Homo sapiens: one gene and its partners. The protein of the gene in region 1 purifies or fractionates together with the protein of each later gene. This does not show direct contact. Each region holds a gene or a part of one and is shown on either strand. Other genes may lie near its edges.

Evidence for each region.
Region 2: the proteins of FBXO24 (region 1) and PSME3IP1 purify together in Homo sapiens (affinity purification with mass spectrometry; one large-scale study listed by BioGRID and IntAct). This does not show direct contact.
Region 3: the proteins of FBXO24 (region 1) and NUDCD3 purify together in Homo sapiens (affinity purification with a luminescence readout; one large-scale study listed by IntAct). This does not show direct contact.

Annotation. Positions count from the first base shown.
Region 1 is NC_000007.14:100,596,194-100,599,072, reverse strand, and holds part of FBXO24 (F-box only protein 24), read right to left. Parts: intron 1-2,879. UniProt on the Homo sapiens protein: Substrate-recognition component of the SCF (SKP1-CUL1-F-box protein)-type E3 ubiquitin ligase complex.
Region 2 is NC_000016.10:57,169,040-57,172,539, forward strand, and holds part of PSME3IP1 (PSME3-interacting protein), read right to left. Parts: intron 3,334-3,500; coding exon 3,212-3,333; intron 1-3,211. UniProt on the Homo sapiens protein: Promotes the association of the proteasome activator complex subunit PSME3 with the 20S proteasome and regulates its activity.
Region 3 is NC_000007.14:44,407,129-44,410,862, forward strand, and holds part of NUDCD3 (nudC domain-containing protein 3), read right to left. Parts: intron 1-3,734.

The DNA of each region.
Region 1 (2,879 bases):
TTTTCTATAGAGATAGTGTCTCACTATGTTGCTCATGGTGATCTCGAACTCCGGGCCTCCCACCTCAGCCTCTAGCATTTTTTTTTTTTTTGTAGAGACGGAGTCTCGCTCTGTTGCCCAAGCTGAAGTGCAGTGGCACGATTTCAGTTCACTGCAACCTCCGCCTCTCCAGTTCAAGCAATTCTCCTTCCTCAGCCTCCCGAGTAGCTGGGACTATGGGTGCACACCGCCACACCTGGCTAATTTCTTTTGTATTTTAGTAGAGACGGGGTTTCACCATGTTGCCCAGGCTGGTCCCGAACTCCTGGGCTCAGGCAATCCACCTGCCTTGGCCTCCCAAAGTGCTAGGATTACAGGTGTGAGCTAGTTGAAATGCTTAGCCTAGCATTTTCAACTTATCACATAATTCTTTTCCAAAATGGCCACCCTGTTTTTGAAAAAAAAGCTTCTACTTGCTTCCTGCCGCTTCCTGCCTCTCTCTCTTAAGCAGCAGAGTTGGTTACATGACCAATCTGAGGCTGACCACATTACTGTTCCTTCCCACAGCCAGTCTATCCAGCACCTCCCTGGGATCTCGCTTTTCTCTCTATTACATTACTGACATGCTCTCTCTAGAGGCACTTGGCCTCTCAGTGGCTAAATCCCAGGGCGTCTTCTGCCCCCTCATTCTCCTGAGCCTGTTAGCGCTTTAATTCTGAAGACACTGATAAGTAATTTATGGTCATTCTAGAAAAATTATGAAACATTGGCAAGCAAAAAATTAATTTTAAAATCATTGGAAATCCCACCATCTACTATTAACATCTTGCTAGATATTCTTCACTGTTGGCTAAACAAACAAATACACATAAATTGTATATTTTTTATTTTTTAGAGATAGGGTCTCAGTGTCACCCAGGCTGGAGTGCAGTGGTGATCACAGCTCACTGCAGCCTTCAACTCCTGGCCTCAAGCAATCCTCCTGTCTCAGCCTCCTGAGTAGTTGGGATTACAGATGTCAGCCACCATGATGGGCAAGTTGTGTATTTTTAAACAAAAAATGGGATGGGGCCAGGTGTGGTGGCTCACACCTGTAATCCCAGCACTTTAGGAGTCTGAGGTGGGAGGATTGCTTAAAGCCATGAGTTCAATATAAGCTTGGGCAACATAGCAAGACCCTGTCTCTAAAAAAAAAAAAAACAAAAAAAACAAAAAAAACAAAAACTTATCTGGGCGTAGTGGCGCATTCCTGTAGTCCTAGCTGCTTGGGAGGTTGAGGCGGGAGGATCTCTTGAGCCCTGGAGTTGAAAGCTGCAGCAAGCTACGATTGTGTCACTGCACTCCAGCTTGGGAAGCAGTGGAGACCATGTCTCAAAAAAGTAATAATAAAAATAAAAAGAGGCTGGGTGCGGTGGCTCACACCTGTAATCCCAGCACTTTGGGAGGCCAAGGTGTGCAGATCACCTGAGGTCAGGAGTTTGAGACCAGCCTGGCCAACATGGTAAAACTCCGTCTCTACTAAAAATACAAAAATTAGCCGGGCATGGTGGTGGGCGCTGTAATCCCATCTTGGCAGGCTGAGGCAGGAGAATCACTTGAACCTGGGAGGCAGAGGTTGCAGTGAGCCGAGATCGCGCCATTGCACTCCAGCCTGGGAGACAGAGCAAGACTCTATCTTGAAAATAAAATAAAAATAAAAATAAAAATAAATGGTACTATGTAAACCATTTCATAAAAGTCTTTTTCACCTAAAAATATGGCATGACTATCTTTTCCATGTCAGTAGTAAATGTATCTTACATTGTCACACCATCAATTAACCCTACCACCCACCCCATTTGGAACTTCCTTCTCATGTGGCTTCTGGGACAGTGTTAGAGGGGTGCACGGCCTGTCTTAGAGGCACCTCTTCATCCCCTGTCTACCACAGGGCCTACTTCTCAGAGTTGCTTTTCAGTCTCTACTTCTGTTTGTTCAACCATGTTCCCAGGTAGAATCTAATTGCCAGCTAGACGTTTCCAATTGAGTGTGGTTTTTGTTTTGTTTTGTTTTGAGACAGAGTCTCTCTCCGTTGCCCAGGCTGGAATGTTGTGGCACGATCTCGGCTCACCGCAACCTCTGCCTCCCAGGCTCAAGCAATTCTCGTGCCTCAGACTCCCGAGTAGCTGGGACTAAAAGCACCCACCACCACACCTGGCTAATTTTTTATTTTTTCTAGAGACAGGGTTTCACCATGTTGTCCAGGCTGATCTCATGCTCCTGGGCTCACGTGATCCACCCACCTTGGTCTCCCAAAGTGCTGGGATTACAGGTGTGAGATATCTTTCTTCCAGAGCCACCTCTGTCTTATACCCCTCTCTTCTACATCTAATCAGTTTTGAGGCCCTATTCATTTTCTTCCCAAATAGCTCCTGTATCCATTCCTTCCCATTCTCGCTGCAGCACCAGGCGCTTGTCTCAAGTGCTGTCATCACTCAACAGCCTCCTGGCGGGCTCCCCTCCTTGGCCTCCTCTGCACAAGGCTCCTGACACATTCTCAGTCACCTCTTGGGGGTTGCCTTCTCCTATTCCAGAACCTGCAGTGACTCTTCCCCAAATCTACACCTCTCTAAGCTTGTGCCCACCTGTACCACCTCATACCTCAGTGATTCCCAAGATGCCTTCTGTGCTTTAGTGAGACCCGTCTTGTCACTGTCCCAGGTATGTGCAAGTTTCGTGCCTATCCCCCTCCTCATCACACAGAATGCCTTCTCTATCCCTACCTAAGTCTTATGTAACCCACGATGCCCTGCTCACATCTTTTTTCTTTTTCTTTGAGACGGAGTCTCGCTCTGTGGCCCAGGCTGGAGTAGGGTGGCACGATCTCAGCTCACTGCAACCTCAGCCTCCCAGGTTCAAGA
Region 2 (3,500 bases), on another chromosome or scaffold:
TTATTCTTTTGAAATGAAGAAAAGTCCTAACCTTTTAGGGGTAGGGGGTGTTAATAATCTTATTTTTGATCCGCAAAGTACAAGCAATTTTTCCTTCTTAAGCCCCTCTTCTCCCAAAATGCTTTAAAAACACAAACACACCTCAAAAATCTCAAGAAATTCATTAGATCAGCATTCTCTTAAAATTGCACCGTTTTTTAACATACACAATACTGCTAAATACTGGTTTAACCTGAGACGAAACAAGAGTTCTGTTATTTACATGGTTTAAACCACAGCTTATTTGTATTCAGAAGTATCCTATTATACAACATATCATATAGTAATCAAGCAAAGCCTAGAAACAGTTCCTAACTTAGAGCTTCAATAAACAAATGTCTAATCCTTCAATTCCTATCTCAACATGTCTCTGGCTACTTGCATGCTTGGGATTAGTGTATTAGATGTCAGTGACTTGGAAGGCCTGCTTTTCTTCAGTTTTTCTAGACAGAACTTTCCAAGTTTCCAGTTAAAGCCCTTATCCCTGGAGCCTCATTGTACTGCAATGTTACCAGGACACAAAGGTTTCTTTTGTCTCACTGCTGCCCTGTTCATTCTTTCCTTTTAATTGAAAACCAAAGGGCATCTCACACTCAACAGCACTTCTCCCCAGATGCTACTTTGGGGGACACTATATGTCTTATTTGCTAGTCTACCAAAATAAAACATAATATCATTCAAGTGAGAAGTGTAATGAATGTATTTCCTTAGAGGAAAAAGCTTGGTGTCTGAAACAACACAATATGGGTATCTGCCTATCTCTACAAACGAACACATATTATTTTGGGGTCATCAGGGTCAGGGAAGGGGGAGTTCAGAATAATCAGCCTCAATCCTACAGTTGAGATTGAGGTATAACTTCCCATGAGCTTCCATCTCCATGTTGCACCTGAATGCCAGTAACAGAACTGGGACTGGAAGCCAGGTCTTTTCCTACCAGTTCTGATGTAAATCAATTCCCAGGGAATCAGGGAATCTGTCCATGTCTTCTCCCATACAACGCTTTTTTTTTTTTTTTTTTTTAAGATAAAGTCTTGCTCTGTCCCCAGCCTGGAGTACAGTGGCGTGACCTTGGCGCACTGCAATCTCCACCTTCCAGGTTCAAGCGATTCTCCTGCCTCAGCCTCCTGAGTAGTTGGGACTACAGGCACAAGCCACCATGCCCGGCTAATTTTTGTATTTTTAGCAGAGACAGGGTTTCACCATTTTGGCCAGGCTGGTCTCAAACTCCTGACCTCAAGCGATCCTCCTGCCTCGGCCTCCCAAAGTGCTGGAATCAAAGGCGTGAGCCACTGTGTCCAGGCCTCCCACGTAACTCTTAAAATGGAATGTGCTGCACATTCTCTGCAAGAAAATACCAACTAGTACATATACACAGTAATGTCGTCCATCTTAGACGTGAAGCCTGTTGGATTACACCAGTGATGTTACTCAACATATAAGCTTGAAATATCCAAATAAGCTTCCTCACATGAAGATAAATGGTCCTATTAATATCTCCTATGAATCATTTATTAATTTATTCACATATTTACTGAGAATCTACTATATGCCAGGCACTGGAGAAATCAGAAGTGACCAAGTCAGATAGTCTTTTTTCTTATGGAGCTCATTTACTTTACATTCTAGCAGGAAAGAGATAAACAAACCAGTAGGCAAATAAATAAAGACAACTTTCAGATAGTGACAAATCTATAAAAAATGATATTACTTGCTGGGTGCGGTGGCTTACGCCTGTAATCCCTGCACTTTGGGATGCTGGAGTGGGCGGATCACCTGAGGTAACGAGTTCGAGACCAGCCTGACCAATATGATGAAACCTCGTCTCTACTAAAAATACAAGAATTAGCTGGGCGTGGTGGCATGCACCTGTAACCCCAGCTACTTGGGAGGCTGAGACAGGAGAATCGCTTGAACCCGGGAGGCGGAGGTTGCAGTGAGACGAGATCGCGCCACTGCAGTCCAGCCTGGGCAACAAGAGAGAAACTCCATCTCAAAAAAAAAAATTGATATTACCGACAGCAATTTTAGGTGGGGTGCTTAGGGAAGGTTTCTAAAAGGGAGAGCTGAGCAGAGGGCTGAGCTGTGAAATGCATCTTGCAAAATCTGAGGGCAGAACATTTTGGGCTGAGGAAACAGCAAGTCTGAGGCCCTGAGATTGACTCAGAAAGCATGGTGAAAGAGAACATAAAGAAGGCCAGCAGGCTGCAGTACAGTCAACATGAGAAAGAGTGGCTTCAAGATGCAAGAAGGAGGCGGGTTGGCCTAAATAATGTAGAACCTTCTACGGCCTGATACAGAGTAAGACTTTAGTCTAAATGTAAGGGGAACCCACTAGACTGTTTCAAATAGAAAAGTGACATGATGCCATGTATGGTTTTTAAAGTTCCCTTTCTTGTCTAAGGAATAGATTATTGAGGATGAGAGCAGAAACAAACCAATTAGATGGTCACAGGAGTCGAGAAGAAAGTCTACTACTACTACAGTAGCAGTAGATACCAACAATTCAAGAGATTTGGAGTACGTTTTGGAAACAGTTCTTGGCCCAGGCACCTGGAGGCATAGGACTACCAGTTACTGGGACTGGGAGGACCAGAAAAAGAAGAGACTTTGGGGAAGGGCAGTGTGATGAGAGTGGGGGTGATGTGGCACAGTATTGAGAATTTTGATTCAGCCAAGTTTCATTTGGGATGTCTATGAAGACATTCAAGTGGATGACCAAAAGGCAACACTGATCTAGAGCAAAGTCATCTTTGCTGCTTTCTCAGCCCTTCTATCAGGACAGGGCATGCTATACCACTAGAGAACATCTTACTAAGAATATAGGAAAGTTGCTAAACATGTTCTTTTAAAACTCAGAGCCCAATTTCTCCCCTGGATGAAGCTGACTGCACTGCCCACCTGTGTCAGAATCTAATCCCAGTACTAGTAGGATTGATGCCTTGAGTTAACCCTAAGAAGGATGTGGACTTTTGACTATAACACTCTTGCACACAACACAAACTCCACAAACCACTACCAGCTTTTCAGAATTACAGGAATATCAGTGTTCAAAGGGACTTGAGAGATCACCAGGTAGAAAACCCTCTTTCTGTTGATGAGGAGACAACATCCATAGATGCTGATGAGAAAATGGACACCTTACAGGTTTTCCTCCAAGTACAAAGGATATTCTGTATTCCTTCAGTTCTTTCAGTTCTTCTTCTCTTCGTTGCTTTTCTATTAGTTCCTGCTGTCGAGAAACCTCATCAAGGAAGTTGGTCTCATCTTCATCTAAGCCTCTTACCATGTTTTCTGAGGAAATAATTAAACAAGGCACACTTAGCAGGCTAAAGGGAAAAATAAGATTTTTCCTTTCCCCTTTTTAAATAAGCAGCAGATTCTTCAGGGGATTAAAAAAAAAAGAACTGGTAAATACCATGGCGTTTGAATAGATAACAGGGCATAAAAAAAAACAAGGC
Region 3 (3,734 bases), about 56 Mb from region 1:
TATGTCCTATAAAGCAAAGCTGACTGGTCAATCCACTCAGCTGTCGGTGGTGGTGGGACGAGCAGGTTTCAGACACACAGTAGACAAACCCATCAATACGGTCCCACACTCAAGAGAATGGGAGAAAAATATTTTTGTATTAAAAAAAAAAAAAAGACCGGGCATGGTGGCTCACACCTGTAATCTCAGCACTTTAGGAGGCCGAGGCAGGCAGATCACCTAAGGTTGACAGTTCGAGACCAGCCTGACCAACATGGAGAAACCCCGTCTCTACCAAAAATACAAAATTAGCCAGGCGTGGTGTTGTATGCCTGTAACCCCAGCTACTCCGGAGGCTGAGGCAGGAGAATCGCTTGAACCTGGGAGGCAGAGGTTGCGGTGAGCCGAGACTGCACCATTGCAACAGGAGCCTGAGCAACAGGAGTGAAATTCTGTCTCAAAAAAAAAAAAAAAAAAAACTAGAGAACTGAAGACTGCATCTTGTGAGAAAAAACAGGCAGATGAAAACAAGTTAAAAAAAAATACAGAGCTAATTTGGAAAAAAGATATCCAAAAATATTTCTATTTTATGTCTTCACAGAGATCTGAGAAGACACTATATCCATATAACCAGAATAAAATATGAAAATAGAACAATTAGGCCAAAAAGAAAGAACACAAGAATTTAAAATACAGTAGCTAAAATTAAACTTCAATAAAGAGGCTGGAAGATAAAGTCAAAGAAATCAAGGTAGAAACACAGATCAATTCAGGCAATCAATTTGGCATTCCAGAAATTATGACAGTAATAAGATAATTTTCCAGAGCCAAAGGAAAATATGCCTCCAGATTGAAAAGTCCCACCAAGAGCTAAGCAGAATGAATGAAAGACTCATGAAATTTTATGACACTGGGTGTTTTTAAAAAGGTCCTGAAAGTTCCAAGGAGGAGAAAAAGCTTACTCACAAAGAGATGGAATAGACTTCCAGAATCAATTACACAGAGTGTAAGAAGATATCCCTTTCAATCCTAACAAGGGAAAATTATTTTTAAGCTAGAATTCTACATACACCCAAACTGAGAAATAAGTGAAAAGTTAAAATAAATGCATTTTAAGATATACAACAATTCTACATTATATATCACTTTGAGAAAAACAAAATGAGGATGAAAACTGAAAAAGAGGAATATCCAACTCAAGTCCAAAAACTGCATTTAATCTATAAACGCAGGAAGAAAATACCAGGAGTGTAGCTATACAGCAGAACAGGAAATAACCAGTCTAGAGTGGAGTTCAGGCAGAAAGAGATTTCTAGACAATACTCAGTATTAATGAATCTGGGTAATTCTGAGGTTATGATGAAGTATACTATTTTTGATAACAAGATAAAAAAGAAGGGCAGCAAGAACCCTCAGGAAAACAAAAAAGATTTAAGAGATTCCTGATCCAAAGGATGTCAGTGAAAATGGTGGTTACTACAGGCCTCCAAAAAGCTCTCCTCCATAAAAGCAACCAAAAAGTTGGCAAAAATTGTCAGTATCAACTTCTTATGGATTTTGGAAACTAACCAAAGGTTTGCAGGAACCCAGGGAGCATTAATTCAAGGAAAACAACCACATCTCAGTAAGAACAGTGAGCTCTGTGATATTTTAATTTGGCCTAGACCCATCCCCACTCTCCAGGCTCTCAGCAGGCCGCATTCCTGGTACAGCGTAGCAGCCATCGCTGGAGAAAACAGTGCTCTTAGAGCTCTTTCAAAGCTTCATTCTCAAAGAACTGTCATCATTTGACCTGTCTGATGGTTCCCTGTAAGACCTCATTTGCAAGACTGACTGACTGTTTCTGGCTAAACTCAGAAAAGCCTTCCTCCCAACCCAGGAGTGTCTGTTGAAAATACGGCAAGTGTTTTAACTTTGCAGCCTCCTGAGGTGGCAGATAACAACTGAGGCAAACCAAAGGCAAAGGTGGGAAATAAAATGTCCGTGGGGGCTTTGAAAAGCTTTGACATTTTCCCAGGAATCTAGAAAGACACATGAATGTACAGAGCTTCACTGCACACTCAGGAAAAACCTAAGAAGGCCTTAAGCTCTCACCTCTGGCTGACTTTGACTCAACATCAGCAGGAAATAAAGGCTAAGGCAGTTTTTAACTGTTAGGCCAAGCAATGAAGGTATGCTCCAACAGGTAGATGAAGCCCCTCGACAAAAACAGGTGTTTACTGATCCCAGGAGTTTAAGGAAATCGCCATCTAATAATTACTTGGCCACTAAGTTCACCAAGTACAGATTTCACTGGTCAGACACAATAAAGAATACAAACTTTACAGAATTAGTTCAGAAAAGTCATTAAACAAGAACAACTATATCACGTACCAATAGCAACCATGGGAAGAAAGGAGCATCTGATTTCCTGAGTCACCCCATTGTGTTATTTAAAAATCCATTTCTCAATAACAGCAAAAAAAAAAAAATTAGACAAAGAAACAACAAAGTATGGCCCATACATAGGAAAAAGAAAGCAATCAATAAAATCTGTCCCTGAGGAAGCCCACATATGAAGAACTTAGCAGAAAACAGTCTCTAAATCACCTATTTTAAATATGCTCAAAGAGCTAAGAAAACTATGCAAAAATTACTAAAGGAAAGTATGGGAATAACGTCTTTTAAGTAGAGAATATCAATAAATATCAGTATCACTATTGATACTGATAACGAGATAGAAATTATTATTACCATTTTTTTAAGAATCAAATACAAATTCTGGAGTTCAAAAGTAAAAGGGGGAAAAGATAAGCGTTCATGAAAGGGGCTCAAAACCACTTTTTAGCATTTAGAAGAAAGAACAAGCAAACTTGAAGACAGGTCAATTGAGATTACCCAAACTGCGAAACAGGAGGAAAAAACAGTGAAGAAAAATAAACAGAGTCACAGAACCTGAGGGACACTATTAAGCATACCAACATACAGAAGAGAAAAGAAGAAAGAATATTTGAAAGAATAATGGCTAAAAACTTTCCAAATTTGACATGAAAAAAATTACACCCAAGAAGCTCAATGAATTCCAAGTAAAATAAACTAAAAGGGAGCCAGCCTCACCTAGATGTCATAATCAAACTGTCAAAAAAGCCAAGTCAATAATGAAGGAACAGAACAAAAACAAGGAATAAAATCTTCAGAACTTACTATAAAGCTACAGTAATCAAAACAGTGTGGTACTGGCATAAGGACAGGCATCTATACAGATCAATGGAACAGAATTAAAAGTCTAAAAACAGCCAGGCACAGTGGCTCACGCCTGTAATCCCAGCACTTTGGGAGGCCGAGGTGGGTGGATCACGAGGTCAGAAGATCAAGACCATCCTGGCTAACATGGTGAAACCCCGTCTCTACTAAAAATACAAAAAAAATTATCCGGGTGTGGTGGCGGGTGCCTGTAGTCCCAGCTACTTGGGAGGCTGAGGCAGGAGAATGGTGTGAACCCAGGAGGTGGAGCTTGCAGTGAGTGGAGATCCTGCCACTGCACTCCAGCCTGGGGGACAGAGCAAGACTCTGTCTCAAAAAAAAAAAAGTCTAGTAACAGGCCAGGCATGGTGGCTCACACCTGTAATCCCAGCACTCTGGGAGGCCGAGGCAGGCAGATCATGAGGTCAAGAGATCGACATTATCCTGGCCAACAGGGGGTAACCATATTTCTACTAAAAATACACAAGTTAGCTAGGTATGGTGGTGCGTGCCTGTAGTTCCAGCTACTCGGG